Linked DNA regions of Homo sapiens. The protein of the gene in region 1 interacts with the protein of each later gene in a pairwise test. Each region holds a gene or a part of one and is shown in the gene's direction. Other genes may lie near its edges.

Region 1 (5,490 bases):
TGACACAGCGAGACTCTGTCTCATTAAAAAAGAAAAAAAAAAGTGCAGACTACATAAATCTAAAGAGACAGAAAGTAAATTAATATTTGCCTGGGGGTGGGGTGGCCATGTACCATGTATTTAAAGTGTGCAATTCATTGGTTTTTAGTATATTCAGAGTTGTGCAACCATCAGCACAATTTTAGAACATTTTCAACACCTGGCCAAAAAAAAAAAACAAAAAAACCCATACTCATTAATAGTCGCTGTCCTTTCTCTCCCAACCCTTCCCCACCCAGCTTTCTATGGATTCGGCTATTCTGGATATTTCACGTAAATGGAAACACAATTATGTGGTCTTCTGTGATTGCAGCTTCTTTCACTTAGCATAATGTTTTCAAGGTTCATCCATGTCATAGCGTGTCTCAGTACTTCATTTCTTTTTACTGTCAAGTAATATTCCACTGTATGGATAATATCACACTTTATGCATTCGTGTAGTTTCTCTACCTCCTTCCCAACTCTTGTCTCTTTTTTATTGTAGGTGTGAAGTGGTGTCTTCAGTAGTTTTGACTTGCATTTCCCAATGGCTAATGATACGGAGCATCTTGTCATGTGCTTGGTGATCATTTATATGTCTTCTTTGGAGAACTGTCTATTCAGATCATTTTTGTATATGGGCTGAGATAGGGAACCAGATTCATTCTTTTACATGTGGATATTCAGTTGTCCCAGTACCATTTGTTGAAAAGATTATTCTTTCCCCACTAATTTGTCTTGACACCCTTGTTGAAAATTAGTCGACCATTTCTGGTTTCTCAGTTCTATTCCATTGAACTAGATGTCTTTGCTTACAACATCTTGATTACTGTAGCTTTCTTTTTTTAAAGTTAAAAAATTTATAAAGTAGAAGTGGGGCTCAGGCTCGTCTGGTGGCCTAGGCTCGTCTGGACCCCTGGCTGCAAGTGATCCTCCCGCCTCAGCCTCCCAAAGTGCTGGGATTACAGGCGTGAGCCTCTGGGGCCTGGCCACAATTGAGTTTTGTTTATTGATCTCGTATCCTGCAACTTTGCTATGAGTTCTAACCTTGTCTTAGTCCTAATAGTTGTTTAATGGATTCCTTAGGGTTTTCTATATACAAGGTCATGTCATCTGCAAATAGAAATAGTTGTACTTCTTCCTTTCCAATGTGGATGCCTTTTATTTCATCTTATTGCCTCATTGCCCTGGCGAGAGCCTCCAGAACAATGTTGACTAGAAATGACAAGGGCCCATGCTCATCTTGTTCCTGACTTAGGGGAAAGCTTTTAATCTTTCGCCTTTAAGTCTGATGTTCGTTGTGGGTTTTTCATAGATGCCCTTCATCAGGTTGAGGAGGTTACCCTCTATTCCTAGTTTGTATGTTATTATACTTTTAAATAGCAGCAGCAGAGCATGTAAGAAGATATGAATAAATACATGGCGAGAGGTTCGCAGTTGATTAAGTGGGGGGAAGAGTTTACTCCATTCATCGTGAATCTGATCTCTGTGAGTAGGAGGATGTGTTAGTTGAACAACTTTAAAAAAAAAAAAAAAAAAGAGGGCGAGGTGGGTGGATCACGAGGTCAGGAGTTTGAGACCAGCCTGGCCAAGATGGTGAAACCCCGTCTCTACTAAAAATACAAAAAATTAGCCAGGCAAGGTGGCGGGTGCCTGTAATCCCAGCTACTCTGGAGGCTGAGGCAGGTGAATCGCTTGAACCCAGGATGCCGAGGTTGCAGTGAGCAGAGATCGCACCGCTGCACTCTAGCCTGGGCGACAGAGCAAGACTCTATCTCAAAAAATAAATAAATAAAAAATAAAAATAGAGACAGGGTCTTGCTGTATTGTCCAGGCTGATCTCGAGCTCCTGGACTCAAACCATCCTCCTACCTTCGCCTCCCAAAGTGCTGGGATTACAGGTGTTAGTCACTGCCCCCAGCTTGAACAAACTTTGTAAGATGCAGGCTATTGTGCAAAATTTTAGCACTGTAAAAAATATCCCCTTATTTTATCAAATATACCTTTATCTTGAGGCATATGTCTATTTTCACCTACTTGTAACTTACACTCTTGATTACTTTTGGTTGTCTTTTTACTCTTGTTCTAATTATCTTTTTTTTTTTTTTTTTTTGAGACGGAGTCTCACTCTGTCGCCAGGCTGGAGTGCAGTGGCGTGATCTCGGCGCACTGCAACCTCCATCTCCCGGGTTCAAGCAATTCTCCTGCCTCAGCTTCCTGAGTAGCTGGGACTACAGGTGCCCACCACCATGCCCAGCTAATTTTTGTATTTTTAGTAGAGACAAGGTTTCACCATGTTGGCCAGGATGGTCTTGATCTCTTGACCTCATGATCTGCCCTCCTCGGCCTCCCAAAGTGCTGGGATTACAGGCATGAGCCACCACGCCCGGCCCTAATTATCTTTTATTGTACAGAAGCATTTTATTTTCATCAGAGTACATTCATCTTGATTGAGATATTTTACAGTAGTTTCTCTCCCCATGCTGGCTGGGCGTGGTGGCTCACGCCTGTAATCCCAGCACTGTGGGAGACTGAAGCAAGCAGATCACCTGAGGTCAGGAGTTTGAGACCAGCCTGGCCAACATGGTGAAACCCCATCTCTACTAAAAATACAAAAATTAGCTGGACATGGTGGCACACACCTGTAATCTCAGCTACTCAGGAGGCTGAGGCAGGAGAATTGCTTGAACCTGGGAGGCAGAGATTGCAGTGAGCCAAGATCACACCACTGCACTCCAGCCTAGGTGACAGGGCAAGACTCCCGTCTCAAAAAAAAAAAAATTATCTTCCCACTATAGTAAGAAAGTAACAGCGTTTTATGACTTGGAAAGTGTCTTCATATAAAATCTTATTTGAATCTCCCAAAATATAGCAGAGATGATCCCCATTTTACAGATTAAAATATGGATACCAGAAATGTTTGAATCATTTGTCAGGATATTGGCAGCAGAGCAGGGGCTAAGGGCATGCTATCTTTTTAAGGCACTTCATATTAATTTTTGTATTTATATACAAAAATTATACACTCCTTGACTCCTTGACTTCGTCGAACATATGACATTCAAACATATCAATAGGGTGGAGGAGAATCCAAGGATAGCTTGCCACTGTATTCATTTCTTATGGCTGCCATAACAAGTTACTGCAAGCTGGGTGGCTTAAGACAAGAGAAATTTATTCCATCACAGTTCTAGGGGCCATAATTCCAAAATCAAGATGTCAGCTTGGTTCCAAAGACAAGGGATTGTTGCTTCTTGGAGGCTTAGACGGGGCCGTTACTCCGCGCATCTCTCCCGGCTGGATGGGTGGCTGCCGGCAGTCCTTGGCATCCCCTGGCTTGCAGCTGTCCAAGTCCAGTCGCTGCTTCTGTCTGCACCTGGCTGTGTGTCTGGATTAAGGGCACACCCTATTCCACTATGACTTCATCTTAGTGACATCTTAAATACTTCTCCAAAGACCCTAATTCCAAACAAGGTGACATTACAGGTACCATGGTTAGGACTACAATGTATCTTTTTATTATTACTATCTTTTAAAGGGATAGGGTGTCACACTGTCATGTAGGCTGGAGTGCAATGGCACGATCGTAGCTCATGCAGCCTCAACCCCCTAGGGCCTAGCGATCCACTCACCTTAGCTTCTCGAATAGCTGGGACTACAGATGTGTGCCACTATGCCGGGCTAAGTTTTTAATTTTTTTGTAAAGACGGGGTCTCCGTGTTGCCCAGGCTGGTCTTGAACTCCTGGCCTCAAGCAATCCTCCCGCCTTGGCCTCCCAAAGTGCTGGGATTACAGCATGAGCCTCCAGGCCTAATGTATCTTTTGAGGGGGCACAGTTCAGCCCACAGCAGCCACTAACAGAGTTCTCTTCTGTCCTCGCTCCCCCACCAGGTGCCCCTGTAGACAATGGCCCTCGTGTCTGCCGATTCCCGCATTGCAGAACTTCTCACAGAGCTCCATCAGCTGATCAAACAAACCCAGGTAAAAAGTCACCACCCTCCATTCCCAGATGGGAACATGGGCTTTGATGCTGAGCCGTGAAGTGGGGGTGGCATTTGTGTTCAGAGAGATTGGACTCGCAGGAACCAAAATGACGTAATAAAAGTGAAAGGAGGGGAATTTGGTGTATGGCTACCATTCCTGTTGGATTTTCTACCATGTACAGGATTTCATGATTCATTTTGTTTGACAGCTATCCTGAGATAGAATTCACATGCCATACAACGCACCCATTTAAAGTGTATAATCCAGTGGTTTTTCGCAGCTCACAAAATTGTGCAACCATTAGCACGATCAATTTCAGAACATTTTTAACACCCAACAAAAATGCCCCATATCTTTTCCTTCCACCCTATTAATCCAGGCAAACAAAAACACTCTTTTTTTTTTGGAGACGGAGTCTCACTGTGTCACCTAGGCTGGAGTGCGGTGGCGCGATCTCAGCTCACTGCAACCTCTGCCTCCTGGGTTCAAGCGATTCTTCTGCCTCAGTCTCCCTAGTAGCTGGGATTACAGGCACACACCACCATGTCCGGCTAATTGTTTTTGTATTTTTAGTAGAGACGGGGTTTTGCCATGTTGGCTGTCTCTACTAAAAATACAAAAATTAGCTAGGCTTGGTGGCGGATGCCTATAATCCCAGCTACTGGGGAGGCTGAGGCAGGAGAATCACTTGAACTCGGGAGGCAGAGGTTGCAGTGAGCCGAGATGGCGCCACTGCACTCCAGCCTGGGTGACAAAGCAAGACTCCATCTCAAAAAAAAAAAAAGCCATTTTTCCCCTATTTGATATCTTTTCTTTCACAGATACAAGGGAGATGCGTATTGGTGCCTGTAGCTCACTGCAGGCTATCGGGCATGCTCTGCCACATTTTGCCCACGATACTCAGGGTTTATAGCTACACAAGGATCAGTTTGCTGGCAGTTGTGCACCGCACAGCCAGGAAGGAGTAGATCCCAGAAATTCCTTCCCAAATGGTATTCCTTTTAGACGTAACCTGGAGAGTAAGAGTCAGAAGATGCCGGCACTCATTGCTAAGTGAAAGATGCCAGTCTGAAAGGTTACGTGCTGTGTATTCCAACTGTAAACGAAAAGCAAAACTAGAGAGTGAAAGGATGAGCGGTAGCCAGGGCCTTGGGAGAGATAGGATGAAAGGGATGGATAGGTGGAGCACAGAGGATTTTAGGGGGTGGAACTCTTCTGCAGGGTACCATGATGGGGGGCACGCAACATGATGCGTTGTCCAAACCCATAGAACGGCAGAACACACAGAGTAAACCATCATGGGGATGGATGTAGTTAATTATCTAACAGTATTGGCTCATCAGTTGTTACAAACGCACCACTCTAATGCAAGATGTTAACAATAGGGGAGACTGCGCAGGGCAGAGCAGGTATACATACAGGAACTCTGTGCCATCAGCTCAGCTTTTCTGTAAACCAAAACTGCTCTAAGAAGAGTTTATCAATAAA
Region 2 (5,319 bases), on another chromosome or scaffold:
AGAGCAACACCCTGTCTTAAAAAAATAAATAAACCTCTGATGACAACCCAAACCCCAATTAGTTCCCCATGTCCCATAGGTCTGCAGGTCTGCATTAATAAAAGCTAGCAGCCATAACATAAATCCTGAAACCTCATGGCTCAACCCAATAGAAGCTGGACTGTTGGTCAGATAAAATCCAGTTGGCTGAGATGAGGGCTCTGCTCCATACTGTTATTCAAGGATCTATGGTGACAGAGGCCCTGCCTTCAGCAGGTAGTACTCAAGCTGCCTTGGGCATCAACATCATAAGTACGTGGGGAGAGAAAGAGGGGGCCACCTGTGGGAGGCTTTGATGGCCTCAACCTCAAAGTGATACACAGCATTTCCCTCCACACCCTCTGGCTAAAGACTTGTATTTCAAGAGAATCTGAGAAGTAGAGTCTAGCTGTGTGTCCAGGGCGTAAAGGAAACATTTAGTGACAGTTGGTCTCAGATACACAAGGGCATGGGAAGACCAGCCTGACATCTTCCTGGGCTTCATGGCCTGGAGTTTGCAGGGTAGCCCACCTCCAGCTCCTGAGCAGGGTACTCAAGAGCCTGCACATTCCAGCTCAACTGATCTTTCCCGAGTCTTCTCTGTCCCTTACCAAGAACCCTGAGCCCAGAACACACTCGCCATTCCCCAAAGGAGGCAGGCTGAGCCACACCTTCGCCTTTGCCCTAGATGGGCCTTCTGCCTGGAATCCTGTGCCCTTTCTCCTACTCTCTCGGAAGCTGTCTTCCTTAGCCATCAGAATTATTCCTGATTCGGGCCAAGCACAGTGGCTCACACCTGTAATCCCAGCACTTTGGGAGTCCGAGGCGGGTGGATCACCTGAGGACAGGAGTTCGAGACCAGCCTGGCCAACATAGCGAAACCCGGTCTCTACTAAAAATACAAAAACTAGCTGGGCGTTGTGGCATGTGCTTGTAATCCCAGCTACTAGGGAGGCTGAGGCAGGAGAATCACTTGAACCTGGGAGGCGGAGGTTGCAGTGAGCCGAGATCGTGCCACTGCACTCCAGCCTGGGCAACAGAGCAAGACTCCGTCTCAAAAAAAAAAAAAAAGAATTATTCCCTATTCATGTTTCTCTGGGCTGCTGTAACAGAAATCGGCTCTGGGCTGTATAAGCAAATGGAAGTATGAAGAGCAGCTCACAGGTGGAAAGGGATGGCCAGAAAACCGGGTTCAACCGGGGCAGGAACCTGGCAGCTGGCGGAGGGAGTGTGGCCCAGGCAGCAGCCTCCTCAATAAACAAGCGAATGCTCACTCCTTGCCCAGAACTGTCTGGCTCAACCCCAGCCATTTTTCCTCCTCTGCAATCAGGCTGCTAAGAATCAGAATCCCTGAGAGAAAATTCAGGGGGTCTAAGGTTTGTCAGGATTCTCAAACACAAGGTGTTCAAAATCAAAGTTAACCTTCCAAGCTAGCTTCTCCCACTCTTCCACATCTCTGCCAGTGGTATCACCCCGGCCATTAGCCCCTTGCTTCTTTCTCCCTCCCTCCCACATTACCAAGCCCTGTCAAGTCGACCTTGGAATGGCTTTGACCCTGTCCACCACTCAGCCAAACAACAGCAACGGCCGGCCCCGTCGCCACCCGCCTCGGCAGCCAGAGACCTTTTAACTCTGCCACTCGCCTACTTACCACCCTTCTAGGGTGCCCACGTCCCTCTGAAAAAAAAGGCTGAGCTCAGACTGGCCTCTGGTCAGCCTCCTCCCAGCCAGAGCTTTCTGTCACTGCCCTTCTAGGTGTTGAGTGGCTCTGCTTCCAGTTCTTGCCTGGAGACCAGGAGCGCCCGGGAGGCCCCAGCACTTTCCAGCCCACATAGACCTGCGTGCACCTCTGCCTCGTCTCCCTGAGCCCGGGCTGCCTCCTCTGTAAGATACATGCCACATAATGTCCGCCACACATGATCGCTGTGACAGTGGAAATAGCTGGGCGTTCAGCGACTCATTCGACAAATGTTTACCAGCACCTTTGGTACCGGGCGCTGTCCTGGACACTGGGGACACAGCAGGCAAACGGGGCCCTGCGTATAAATCCTTAAGCTCAAGAAGGAGGTGGGGGCAAAACTGTCAGGCCGGGAAGCTCTTCATCTCCGCAGGATTCTCCCTCAACCTCAGGACGTCCCCAGCACCGCACCTGCCAGTCCCAGACTCGGACGCCGCAGACCTGTGGGAGCAGCGCGGAATGCCCCGCCCCTTTTCCCGAGGACACCCAATGAGGGCGAGAGGTCACTTCCGGGGAGGGTTCGCTAACGGAAAGGGCGGGGCATCCCTCTCGAGGAGCGGCCTTGTTCCTCAAGCGGCCGCTGGGGGCGCCAGAGCAGGACCGGAGCGCGGGCCAAGCTGGAGGTGAGCGAGGCCGCGCCCCCCTGGGCCCCGGCCCTCCCAACGCGCCCTGACGGCTGGGCTCCGCCTGACCCTGTCCTAGCGTTCGCGGTGGCACCAACCTCAAGCCAGACCCTTGACTTCGACCCAACTCCACTCACCCGACTCCACTCACTCCACACCCCATGCCCCTCCCCCGACGCCCCTCACCCCGCCTCACCCTTCACCCCTCATCGCTCACGTCACCGCTCACCCGCCTCCTCACCCAGCCTCGCCCCTCACCCCTCACCCCGCCTCACCCCTCACCCCGCCTCACCCCTCACCCCTCATCCCGCCTCACCCCTCACCCCTCATCCCGCCTCACCCCTCACCCCTCCTCACCCCGCCTCACCCGCCTCGCCCCTCACCCCTCACCCCTCCTCACCCCGCCTCACCCCTCACCCCTCACCCCGCCTCACCCCTCACCCCGCCTCACCCCTCACCCCGCCTCACCCTTCACCCCTCACCCCGCCTCACCCTTCACCCCTCACCCCGCCTCACCCCTCACCCCTCACCCCGCCTCACCCTTCACCCCTCACCCCGCCTCACCCTTCACCCCTCACCCCGCCTCACCCCTCCTTACCCCGCCTCACCCGCCTCGCCCCTCACCCCTCATCGCTCACGTCACCGTTCACCCGCCTCCTCACCCAGCCTCACCCCTCACCCCGCCTCACCCCTCACCCCGCCTCACCCCTCACCCCTCCTCACCCCGCCTCACCCCGCCTCACCCCTCCCCCGCTCCCCTCACTGCACACTCCATACCCCACTCTCCCCACCTTACATCCCTCACCTCAGTCCTTCACCCCCTTAACCTAATCTCCATGTCCTCACACCATACACTCCTGATCCTGAAGTCTGCACACCCTGGGCTTCTCATTCCGTGCAGCCTGCCCCTCTTACCCTCACACCTGCCACACCTGGGACCCCGGAGTCCACACACCACCTCACACCCCAAGTTCCCACACGCACCTCTGGCTTCCTCCACCTGCACTTCAGGACCCGCCCAGACTCTTCATAGCCCAACTCCAAGACTTCTCTCCCACATCACAGGTGCATTCCCTTCCTGTGCTGCTCTCATCCCGTACAAAAGAGCACATCTCTGCACCAAGCATCCCTCTTATCCCCTCACATTCCTTGTTCTCAGAGGGATCCCAGACTCTGTTAGAAACTCTTCGTACCAGGCAAGACACTCAGACCACAAACCAGACTCTAGGCTCTGACTCGCTCAACCCCCGTCCTTCACACCTAAAGTGATACCCAAGCCAGACCCTACACTCCCGCCCCACGCTCCCGCCCCACACTCCTCCCGCCCCACGCTCCTCCCGCCCCACACTTCCGCCACCCATCCTAAGCTCCGTTCCATTGTGCTTTGGTGCGGGCTCAGGCCTCTTTCTCCACCCGTTCCCAGTCATCCCAGGCAACCTCATTAGGCAAGAAATGCCGTGAATTCTAATCCTGTGGCTGCTTCCTCCACATCAGCTCTCACACCCTCTCCCTGGATCTCCTTTTCAGATCCATCCCTCTTCTGAGATCCAGTGCCACTCCGGCCCAGCCTCCATCCTTCTAGCAGTCTCATGCTCTATCCCCAAATCTACCTGTGGCCACCCCAACGCCCCACTTATAGAAACTACATGTCTTTTCTATGCCTCTGCTTCACCCCAACCATCAACCACCCCTTAAGCCACTCTCATACTTGTGCTCTCAGTGTCCTTACCTTGTCCATCCACTGCATGTATGTTTACGTTCCCAGGCCTTCTACACTCCATCCACTGTCTCTGTGCCGTCTTAGGGTCCTGAGGACACTGTGGCCATGTGGCCTCAGTCACATGCCTAGGTGCCCCTAGGGAGGCATGCAGCTTTGATAAAGCTTTATCGTTCTCCTCAAACCAAGAATGTCTGTTGTTACAAGAAGAAACTTTTCATTGCCATTTATTAGGGAGTTAGAGACCATCGGGCCTGAAATCCCCCCCTTGCCATCCTACCTTGACCTCTACCTACCTTATTCTATCTCTACCTCCTTACCTTCCCTTACCTTCATAGGGTGAAATGACCCCTTACTTGTCTGAGACCAGTCCCTGCACCATCAGTTGCCCTTTCTTCTGATTCTTCAGGCTTTTCTGTCCAGGTAGCTCTTTCCACACAGCCTAGAAACGAAGAATTCAAAAAACAAAAAACCTTGACTCTGTATCACCTTCTAGTTACCTCCTGTTTTTTTCTCCCCTTCCCATCTAAATCTGTACACACAATCCATTTTGTCTAATGATCCATTAATTATTTAATTCATGAAATATTTTTACTTTTATGGCTCTCCTGAAACGTCTCACCGAGTTGACCAGTGACACCCAAATCAAATATCTTGAATTTACTGAGCCCTTTTTTTCATTTTGCAGAGGGGATCTTCCAGATCTTCCTCTGTAGCCTAGTCTAGAGTGCTGTGGCACAATTGTCCCACCTCACCCTCCTGAGTAACTAGGACTGGAGGTGCGCACCACCACACCCAGCTATTTTTAAATTTTTTTGTAGAGACTGTTGCCCGGGCTGGTCTGAAACTCCTGGCTTCAAGCATTTCTCCTGCTTTAGCCTCCCAAAGCACTGGGATTCCAGGCATGAGCTACCATGCCTGGGCCTGCCATGCCCAAATACTGTAATCTTTGACACTGGTGTAATATCTCCCAACTTAAAATAAAATACCCCTGTGACTCTACATTACATTCCAGGTACTGGCATGTTTCTCTGCTTCTCTTTGAAGTAAAACTCACCAGTTTCTACTTCTCCTTCCCTCTCTTTAGAAACATTTCGATTGGGCTCTTGTTCCAGCCACTCCATGAAAACAGCTCCTGTCAAGATTGCCAGTGTGACCTCCAGATTGTCAAATCCAGTGGTTACTTTTTATTTATTTTTGTTTTTGTTTTTTTGGAACAGAGT
Region 3 (4,858 bases), on another chromosome or scaffold:
AGAAGAATCACTTGAACCTGAGAGGTGGAGGTTGCAGTGAGCCGAGATTGTGCCACTGCACTCCAGCCTGGGCGATAGAGCTAGACTCTGTCTCAAAAAAAAAACAAAAAACAAGTAACTCTTTATTCCTTGTGTGAAAATCCAGGGCTGTTAAAGTTTAGTGGCAGGAGGAGGAGTTAAGGTGATCTTGTGAGAAGAGTCATGCTGGTGACATCAGGAGGGGTACATGGCTGTGATGGGGGAGGTGGTGCTGCTGGACTGAGCCAGTGGAGGGGGAAGATCTGCAGCTAGCATAGTTTCATGCTCAGTGAGGATGATGGTCACCGTGTTTGTTGTGTACTTACTGTGCTGAGAGCTTTCCTCGCAGAGGCCCTCCCAACGAACAGCTCTCTCAGAAGCATCTGTTCCTTCCTGGTCACGAGGTGGCCAGAGCACAATGTATAGGCAGACCAGTGGTCCTTCCTCTCCCAATGTGGCCATGTGGAGGACAGGATGTCTTCCTGGGGGTTGGGATGGACTCTCTGGGCACTGTACTCTCTCTCCTACCTGCCTCCCTGCAGTCCCTCCCATGGATGACTCAGGCCTCCCAGAAGCAATTTCTATCTGTCCCCTTCACTTTCAGGCCTTGGGGAGTCTCTGCTCCTACCTGACTCTGTGTTGTAATTTCAGGGGAGCATCAGTGGAGGAGGCAGTGGGGGCAGCAGCAGCCTCCTGACCAATGCCCGCTCTTGGGGAGTGAGGATTCTGCACGTGGATGGTACCCTTTCTGTGCTGGGCTCCTGTGGAGGGAGAATTGGTGACTTTGACCAGGAGTGTCAGCTTTTAGAAGGATCATGGTCATGTGAGCTTCTGGTCACCGGAAGCCAGAAATACTCAGCTGCCATGTTGATCCACAAAGGTGGGAGGATGTGGGGAAGGGGGAAAGCGGTGAGGACGCAGAGTGCAGGCTGTGGCCTCGGCATCCCGCAGGAGGTCCCTAGAACATGCCGTTTCATGTCACCTGCTACAGCTCTCCCCCAGCTAGTATGATGATCCTGTTTTACAAATGCAGAAATGATCTTAATATTCATGACCACTGGCCAGGCGAGGTGGCTCACACCTGTAATCCCAGCACTTTGGGAGGCCAAGGCGGGTGGATCACAAGGTCAAGAGTTCGAGACCAGCCTGACCAACGTGGTGAAACCCCGTCTCTACTAAAAATAGAAGCATTAGCCGAGCCTGGTGGTGCGTGCCTGTAATCCCAGCTACTCAGGAGGCTGAGGCAGGAGAATCACTTGAACCCAGGAGGCAGAGGTTGCAGTCAGCCAAGATCATGCTACTGCACTCCAGCCTGGGTGACAGAGCGAGACTCCGTCTCAAAAAAAAAAAAAAATTCGGCCAGGTGCGGTGGCTCACGCTTGTAATCCCAGCACTTTGGGAGGCCGAGGCAGGCAGATCACGAGGTCAGGATATCGAGACCATCCTGGCTAACACGGTGAAACCCCTTTTCTACTAAAAATACAAAAAATCAGCCGGGCGTGGTGGCGGGCGCCTGTAGTCCCAGCTACTCGGGAGGCTGAGGCAGGAGAATGGCGTGAACCTGGGAGGCGGAGCTTGCAGTGAGCCGAGATTGCGCCACTGCACTCCAGCCTGGGCGACAGAGCGAGACTCCGTCTCAAAAAAAAAAAAAAAAATTCATGGCCACCTAACAGGTATTGACTCTGTGCTACGAATTACCTCATTTAATCCTCACTACAGTCCTGTCCCCATTATACAGATGAGGAAATTGAGCCTCAAAGGGATTAGGCAAATTGTCCATGGTCTCACCAGAGTGTGTAGTGTGGCCCACCACTCTCAGTTTTACTCAGCTGTAAATTTTGTGCTCCTTCTTTTTTCACACTGTAAACAACCTGTTTGCAGCCTGTTTACACTAGAATAGTTGTCTTGAACCAGGTGGCAGTGAGTGGTTTCATACCCAGCTCCATTCTTGAGTCTGGAGTTTTCTGTGATCCATTTTAGAGGATTGGTCCAGATGGGACAGCCCATAGGTGCTGACTGGGGCGCTGCCCCACCCCTTGGTACCAAGATCTTCCAGGGGAGTCTAGAGGCTGTACAGGGGAAGTTCCTGGTCTGGGATGTGGAGGGCTTCATCTCACTGAAAAATCAGCCATTTCTGACTTGATTTCCTTCCCTGCCTTTCTCTGTTAGAGGAGTGCTAGCATGTTTAGCCCTTGCTGGTCTTTCACCTGAGGGTACAGCTGAGTAGTTCACACAGCATGGCCTCCCTCACAGCCACAGCTCTTCAGTGGTGCCTTAAAGTCCTTAGCAAGCCATGAGGCACCTTCTGTTCAAAGATGAGTTGTATTCAATGCTGCAAAAGAGCATGACACCCGCTCAGGTGCTGTTCCAGGGATAGAGGACCCAGTCCTTAACCTCCGCTGTCAGGAGATGCAGAGGGGATGTGTAGCCAGAAGGTGGCAGGCAAGGCTGGAGTGATTCAGTGGGCTGGCCCAGCGAGTTTAGTCCTGCAGCCCAGGAAGGGGCTGTGCTAGGTAAGTGAAGACTGGAAGCCTTTGGCACAAACCCTCTGTCTTCTCCACAGAAATGATGATGCACGTGCAACAGCTGTCTCTTGCGTCTTTATGTGTGAAAAAACAACAGCCAAAGAAGCCAGAGGTAGGTCATCCTGCTGAACTGAAGGACAAATGGATGGTTTTCAATGAAATCAGTGACAACTTAGGTAAATCCATGGCCCACCCAAACCATCTCTTCCTGGCCATTCTGAAAGATGGAAGAGGAATGCAGCCTCTTATTTACCTCAGTCCTAGTGCCCATAGCTTTGCAACACCCTTTCTTCTCTCTTCTCTGTGGCACTTGCAGTCCTCCCATGGCACACACCCTGCTGAGACATCCCTATGGCCTGGACTGCCTGGGCCATGGGCTCCCTACAGTAGTTCTGGACCAGATAAAGTTCATAAATGCCCATGGCACTGACCAGGCTGCTATTCTGGAACTTTCCCTGTACAGCCTCTAGACTGGGAACGAGTCTGCATACTGCAGGGGTGAGAAGGAGTGATTGAAATAGCTGCCATCTTCTAAATCCTTGTTTGTTTTCCATTCTTTGCTGGCGTTAGAACTGTGTGTACTACATCAAGAGAGCCCAACCTGGTTTAAAGCCACAGTATCTTCACCCAAGCCTCAATCTGAGGAAGGATTAAATCTACAGATCTACCCACAGCCTGGCATCCAGGCACAGGACGAACAGTAATAGCTATTAGTTAACAGTGCTAATTAGCTAACAGAACTAGCAAGCCACATCCAAAGTGGATGGAGCAGCTGGGCATGGTGGCTCACACCTGTAATTCCAGCACTTTGGGAGGCCAAGGCCAGCAGATCACTTGAGGTCAGGAGTTCAAGACCAGCCTGGCCAGTGTGGTGAAACCCCGACTGTGCTAAAAATACAAAAATTAGCCGGGCGTGGTGGCACATGCCTGTAATCCCAGCTACTCAGGAGGCTGAGGCAGGAGAATCTTGAACCCAGGAGACATGTTGCAATGAGTCATGATCGCACCACTGCACTCCAGCCTAGGCGACAGCAAAATTCTGTCTCAAAAAAACATAAAAAAATAGTGGATGGAGCATTCAGACACTGACGCCCTCTCCACACCCTCTCCTCTAGGAGTGTTGGGGACATTGCTGCTGTTAAATTTGTGTTATTCAAAATTCAAAAGGGTATACAACAAAAATTCTCGCCCTGCTCCAGCTTCTCCTCAACCACTGACCTTCCTCCCTGAAAGTGTGAACAGTTTCTAGGACTCTATGCACATAGAAGCAAATATGTCAAAAATTCCCCCCTTCTATGCAGATACACAGCATTTTTACTTTAACTTAATCAGTTTTGTAGGCCGGGCACAGTGGCTCACGCCTGTAATCCCAGTAATTTGGGAGACCGAGGCAGGTGAATCGCTTGAGGTCGGGAGTTTGAGACCAGTTGGCCAACATGGTGAAACCCTGTCTCTACTAAAATACAAAATTAGCCATGTGTGGTGGCGCATGCCTGTAATCCCAGCTACTTGGGAGGGTGAGGCAGGAGAATCGCTTGAACCCTGGAGACAAGTTGCAGTGAGCTGAGATCACACCACTGCACTCCAGCCTGGGCAACAGAGTGAGACTCTGTCTCAAAAAAAAGAAAAAAAAATTAGTTTTGTAGATATCTAGCAGTGAAGTGAGTTTTGGGTGTAATGTGCTGATACGCAAGGGAATGTGAGAGGCTTCTTTGGATTGTGTTTGCCCCCAAGGTGTGGCCTAGAGGAGAATCTGGAACTTCTTAAGGCCCAGAGGCACAGGTGGTCATGGATCCACCATCATCCTGGCCCTCCAGCTAAAGCTGATTTTTTTATTTTATTCCATTTATCTTACATTTATTTACTTATTTTTCAGGTATATACCAGAAGATCCATTTACTCTTTTTTCTTTTTATTTTATTTGTTTATTTTACTTTACTTTTTTTGTGAGACAAGGTCTGGCTCTGTCGCCCAGGCTGGAGTGCAGTGGCGCCATCTCTGTTCACTGCAACCTCCACCTCCTGGGCTCAAACCATCCTCCCACCTCAGCCTCCCAAGTAGCTAGGACTACGGGCATGCGCCACCATGCCTGGCTAATTTTTTTTTTTTTTTTTTAAAGATAGGGTCTTACTATGCTGCCCAGGCTGGTCTCAAACTTGTGAGCTCAAGCAATCCACCTGCCTCGGCCTACCAAAATGTTGAAATTACAGACGTGAGCCACCACGCCCGGCCTCCATTTACTTTTTAATATCAGCTTTGTTTGACCTTGGCTTAAACATTGATTTTGACCCACAGGATCAGAGTACACAAGATAG
Region 4 (4,858 bases), on another chromosome or scaffold:
GACCAGCATGGGCAACACAGCGAGACCCCTGTCTCTACAAAAGAATTATTTAATTAGCCAGGAGTAATGGTATGTGCCGTCATCCCATCTACTCTGGGGCTAAGGTGGGAAGATCACTTGAGCCCAGCAGCTGGAGGCTGCAGTGAGCTGTGATCACTGTTACCTACTGCAGTCCAGCTTGGATGACAGAATGAGACTCTGTTTCTAAAATTTAAAAATAAATAAAAAATAATAAGATTAGTACAGGTGAGAGCAAGCCTTACACAGGGAATAAACAGGTTGGTAGAAAGTAATCGGGGAGGGATGCAAGGGTTTCAAGATTAACTGGAGAAAGCCACCTTGCAGACATGAGACTCAAGTTGAGAACTAGAAAATGAGAAAGGCTGATGTATGTGAAGAGCCCAAGGAGGAGAATTCCAGGCAGGGGAAGCAGCAGCAAGTGCAGAGTCTCCTGGATGGGTCAAGACTTCGTATGTTCACCCACCAGGAAAGAGATGAGTGTGTCTGTCCCTGGGACATGGCGGGACAAGGTGAGGAGTCCGCATTGTACTCTAACACAGTGGGAAGACTGGAAGGGTTCCCATTAGGAAGTGCTATGACCTGGACGCTTCAGATGTGTCTGATGAACAGACTGGGGAAAGACATTGGGAGGCTCCTTCAAGGCCCAGGTGAGAGGAGATGGAGGTGAGAGGAGATGGATGAGAACCATAAACAGATTCATTTAGCACCGATGCACTGATACTGTCAATAGCCTCCAGCGGTGTCATAGGCTTGAAGGCAACACATATCGTGCACACATCTGTAGATCGCCTACTACATGCCAGGCCTTGTATTTTCCTTCTGTTTGTTTCGGCTCCCTAATGTTCCTATTTAATATTAATATTTTCAGTTTGTAAATGAAGAAACCTCAGAGAGATTGATTTTCAAATCAAACTCCTGCCGATGCCACAGCTGATGGTCTGGTCTGTACAGCCCTGCAGGTACAGCTGCTCGGCAATGTGTATTGCATGGCAAAAAAAGGAGGAGCTGAGCATATTGCGCAGAGCACGGGAGGGTCTTTTGGCCCAAAATGACACCCCTGCATGTGGACCAGAGTAGTATTTTCGCCCCATAGGAACTAGAGGTGTTAGCTAAGCTAGGGATGGATGACCTAGGGGGATGAAAACACATTTTGTCAGTGTCAAGTTTATATCAGCAGAGCCACCCTGTGCTCCTAAGTCACACCTCGCAGGAATGGGAGGCAGAAAGGTTGCATTTAGAAGGAAAGGATTAGCTCTGGAAAGTGAGTTTGGACATTGAGGCTCCCCAGATCCATAGGGATGATGGATGTTGGCAAGGACAATGGTCACAATATAAGTAACAGATACCGATAACACTGCCTAGCATTTATTGAGTGCCCACTATGTACTAAGTATTGAGTAAATGTTCCAGAGCTGTTATCTTATGGTGGTATTTCTTAAATTTCTCATAACGATCCTATGAGGTAGGCTGCTTCACTGTATTTCCTCGAGTATACAAAGCCATCAATTCAATAAAAGCTTTTCACATCAAAACATATTAAACTTACACAACGAAGTTTTGTTGTGTCATGCTTTTCCTAACAAAATATAGAACATATTCATAACATAACCTCTTTATTCTTCAGGATGATAACGCAAGTTTGAATCGAAGCCTAGATATTCAGAGTCACAGAGTCTCCATGCACAACTGCTAATTGTAAAAAATATATATATAATAAAATTAAAATTAAAAAACAGAGTCAGAAAGTTTCTGGCTCCCTTTCAGCTGTGCCCATGCAGTTCTCCATGTCCCACCTGGGATTTCTTTAGCCCCTTTAGGATGGATGGTATAATTTAGAGCTCAGCGAAGAACAGAGGCTCCTTCCACATCTCCTGTTTTATTAAACTTGTGGCTTTCCCCTTCTTAATTGGATATCTGTCTTTTGACTAAGAAATACTTCACAGTGCATGACAATCACCAACCTTTCCTAGCTTTGAAAATTGTGTGATCTAAACTTAGAGATTTGCCTGAATCTGCACATGTGCTGGCACTGACATCCCAATTTCTCCTGTCTGGTGACTGACAAGGTTGTTATTGTTTAAGCATTGATTATTAGATGCTATCCTATTACTTTAAAAAAAAAATGTGCCCAGTCCGGTGGCTCACGCCTATAATCCCGGCACTTTGGGAGGCCTAGGCAGGTGGATCACCTGAGGTCAGGAGTTCGAGACCAGCCTGGCCAACATGGGAAAACCCCATCTCTACTAAAAATACAAAGATTAGCCAGCCAGTCATGGTGGTGCTCACCTGTAATCCCAGCTATGTGGGAGACTGAGGTGGGAGAATCATTTGAACCCGCGAGGTGGAGGTTGCAGTGAGCCAAGATCATGCCACTGCACTCCAGCCTGGGCAACAGAGTGAGACTCTATCTCAAAAAAAAAAAAAAAAAAAGTTTAAGGGTGTCTTAGAATTAGTTTGTAACACTGAAGGTTAAAGATATTAAACAGTTTACCTTCCATGTCATAGCTGGCAGGTGATGTAACTAGAATGCACACCAAGTCGGCTGGGTACTTCTCAACATTAAGGCTGTAATGACTTTCTCCTTCTTTCTCTCTTGAATCTTCTCAATGAGGCCTTCCTTCCACCATTCCTCCAAAACTGCTCTTGTCAAGGTTACCAAAGATCTCCACATGGCCAAATGCATTGACTAATTCTCAATTGTTATCTTACTTTCAGCAGCACTTGACAACTTTTTTTTTTGAGACAGGAACTCAGTCTGTTGCCCAGGCTGGAGTGCAGTGGCGTGATCTCAGCTCACTGCAACCTCCGCCTCCTGGGTTCAAGCTATTCTCATGCCTCAGCTTCCTCAGTAGCTGGGACTACAGGTGCGTGCCACCATGCCCAATTTGCCTGGCTAATTTTTTATATTTTTAGTAGAGACGGGGTTCCACCATGTTAGCCAGGCTGGTTTCAAACCCTTGACCTCAAGTGATCTGCCCACCTTGGCCTCCCAAAGTGCTGGGATTACAGGCTTGAGCCATTGCGCCTGGCCATTTGACACCATTTTTAGGAAACAATTTCTTGACTTGGCTTTCTTAGGTCTTCTATATCGACATCACCCTGAAAACCTTCTCTGCTGCTCTTTTTCACTTCTCCTAACCTGCCTGACCTCCAGATGCCGAGTGCTCCATGTTAACCATCCTCAGGCCTCTCTTGTCTTTCTGCATCCGCTCTTTGGTGACCCCATCTAGTCTCATAGCCACTTCCACACTCCCAGCTCTGACAAGTGCATCTGCAGCTCCCAGCAGCTGCCCACTCACCCTCCTGCCTACTCTCCATCACTCCCTGGATGCCAAATAGGCTTTGCAAACTGAATGTCTTCAACCAAACTCCTCTCTTTGGCATTGTCCCTGACTCCTCTCTTTCGCTCACTCCCTACATCTGATCCTTTAGCAAGTCCTGTCAGCTCAACCTCAAAATTACATTGAAAACTGTTTTTTAGAGACAGGGTCTCACTGTGTTGCCCAGGCTGGTCTTGAACTCCTGGCCTCAAGTGATCCTCCTGCCTTGGCCTCCCAAAATGCTGGGATTACAGACGTGAGCCACCACCACATCTAAATCCACAACTACCACCCTAGACTATTAGCCTGTAATTGGCCACCACTTCTATCCCCCGTCTCCTCAATAAGCTTCTTCCCCACCCGGAAGCCAGAGTGACCTTCCCCAACCTAAGGCAGATCAAGGTGTCAGCTGCTTAAAGCCATCCAGGGGCTCCTTGTCTCAACCCAAGCAAAGCCAGAGCTCTTTGAGCTGCACAGCCTCCTTGTTCTCTGATGTCTGCTGGCTCCTGGTTTCTGTTTCTCCTTCCCAGCCTTGCTAATTGTTCTCCAGCCAGGCTGCTTCCCATGTGGGTCTCACACAGCCAAGCCCCCTCTGCCTCAGGGACTCAGGCTTTTATACTTGGGGTTTCTTCTGGTACCCCTCTCCCCCTAGATTTTCATATGACTTGCACCTCATTTTCTTTTCTTCTTCTTCTTTTTTTTTTTTTTTTTTTTTTTTGAGTCAGGCCCAGGCTGGAGTGCAGTGGCACAATTGTGGCTCACTGCAGCCTTGATCCCCGGGGCTCAGACGATTCTCCCACCTCACCCTCCCAAGTAGCTGGGATTACAGGTGTGCACCACTACGCCCGGCTAATTTTTGTATTTTTAGTAGAAATGGGGTTTCTCTAAGTTGCACAGGCTGGTCTCGAACTCCTGGACTCAAGCAATCTGCCCACCTCAGCCTCCCAGAGTGCTGGGATTACAGGTGTGAACCATCATGCCTGGCTGCCCCCTCATTTTCTTGAAGCCTTTTAAAATGCTACCCTAACAAAAGAAGACCTTCCTGCATAAAACAGCCACCTCCCAGAATTCTGTTCTGTCCTCTCTGCTCCAGTTTCCCCCGCAGCACTGGTACCCGCAGCACTGGTACCCGCAGCACTGGTACCACTTGCTATAGTATACATTGGTTTGCTTCTGGCCTCTCCACACCACTGTAACCCTAAGTTCCAGGAATGCAGGGACTGTGACTGTTTTAGTCACTTGCTGGGTCCCGAGTGTTTAGAGTAGAGGCTTGCATGAAGTGGGCTCCCAGTGAATGTTTGTTGAATTATCAGACAAAGGAAGAAGGAACGGAGCACCCGGTGGTGGAGACAGTGCTGGGCTCTGACATGTGTTTCTCTACTGCCCAGATCTGGAAGTCGGAATCAGCACTGTGCTGTGACCACTCCCACCCACGCTGACTTCTGTCTTGTGTCTTCTTCCAGGTCTACGGCTCTCGCAGGCTCTGTGAGGGCTTTGCTATGACCTCAGTCCCCTCA

The links.
Region 2: the proteins of SGF29 (region 1) and SYCE3 interact in binary tests that used the Homo sapiens proteins (3 or more experiments, as listed by UniProt).
Region 3: the proteins of SGF29 (region 1) and DBF4B interact in binary tests that used the Homo sapiens proteins (3 or more experiments, as listed by UniProt).
Region 4: the proteins of SGF29 (region 1) and LZTS1 interact in binary tests that used the Homo sapiens proteins (3 or more experiments, as listed by UniProt).

Annotation. Positions count from the first base shown.
Region 1 is NC_000016.10:28,577,146-28,582,635, forward strand, and holds part of SGF29 (SAGA-associated factor 29), read left to right. Parts: intron 1-3,909; 5' UTR 3,910-3,924; coding exon 3,925-3,999; intron 4,000-5,490. UniProt on the Homo sapiens protein: Chromatin reader component of some histone acetyltransferase (HAT) SAGA-type complexes like the TFTC-HAT, ATAC or STAGA complexes.
Region 2 is NC_000022.11:50,559,918-50,565,236, reverse strand, and holds the start of SYCE3 (synaptonemal complex central element protein 3), read left to right. Parts: upstream 1-2,317; 5' UTR 2,318-2,379; intron 2,380-3,158; exon of another isoform or gene 3,159-3,444; intron 3,445-5,319. UniProt on the Homo sapiens protein: Major component of the transverse central element of synaptonemal complexes (SCS), formed between homologous chromosomes during meiotic prophase.
Region 3 is NC_000017.11:44,731,509-44,736,366, forward strand, and holds part of DBF4B (protein DBF4 homolog B), read left to right. Parts: exon of another isoform or gene 1-669; coding exon 670-757; exon of another isoform or gene 758-841; intron 842-2,581; coding exon 2,582-2,655; exon of another isoform or gene 2,656-2,673; intron 2,674-4,858. UniProt on the Homo sapiens protein: Regulatory subunit for CDC7 which activates its kinase activity thereby playing a central role in DNA replication and cell proliferation. Required for progression of S and M phases.
Region 4 is NC_000008.11:20,255,262-20,260,119, reverse strand, and holds part of LZTS1 (leucine zipper putative tumor suppressor 1), read left to right. Parts: intron 1-4,804; 5' UTR 4,805-4,858. UniProt on the Homo sapiens protein: Involved in the regulation of cell growth. May stabilize the active CDC2-cyclin B1 complex and thereby contribute to the regulation of the cell cycle and the prevention of uncontrolled cell proliferation. May act as a tumor suppressor.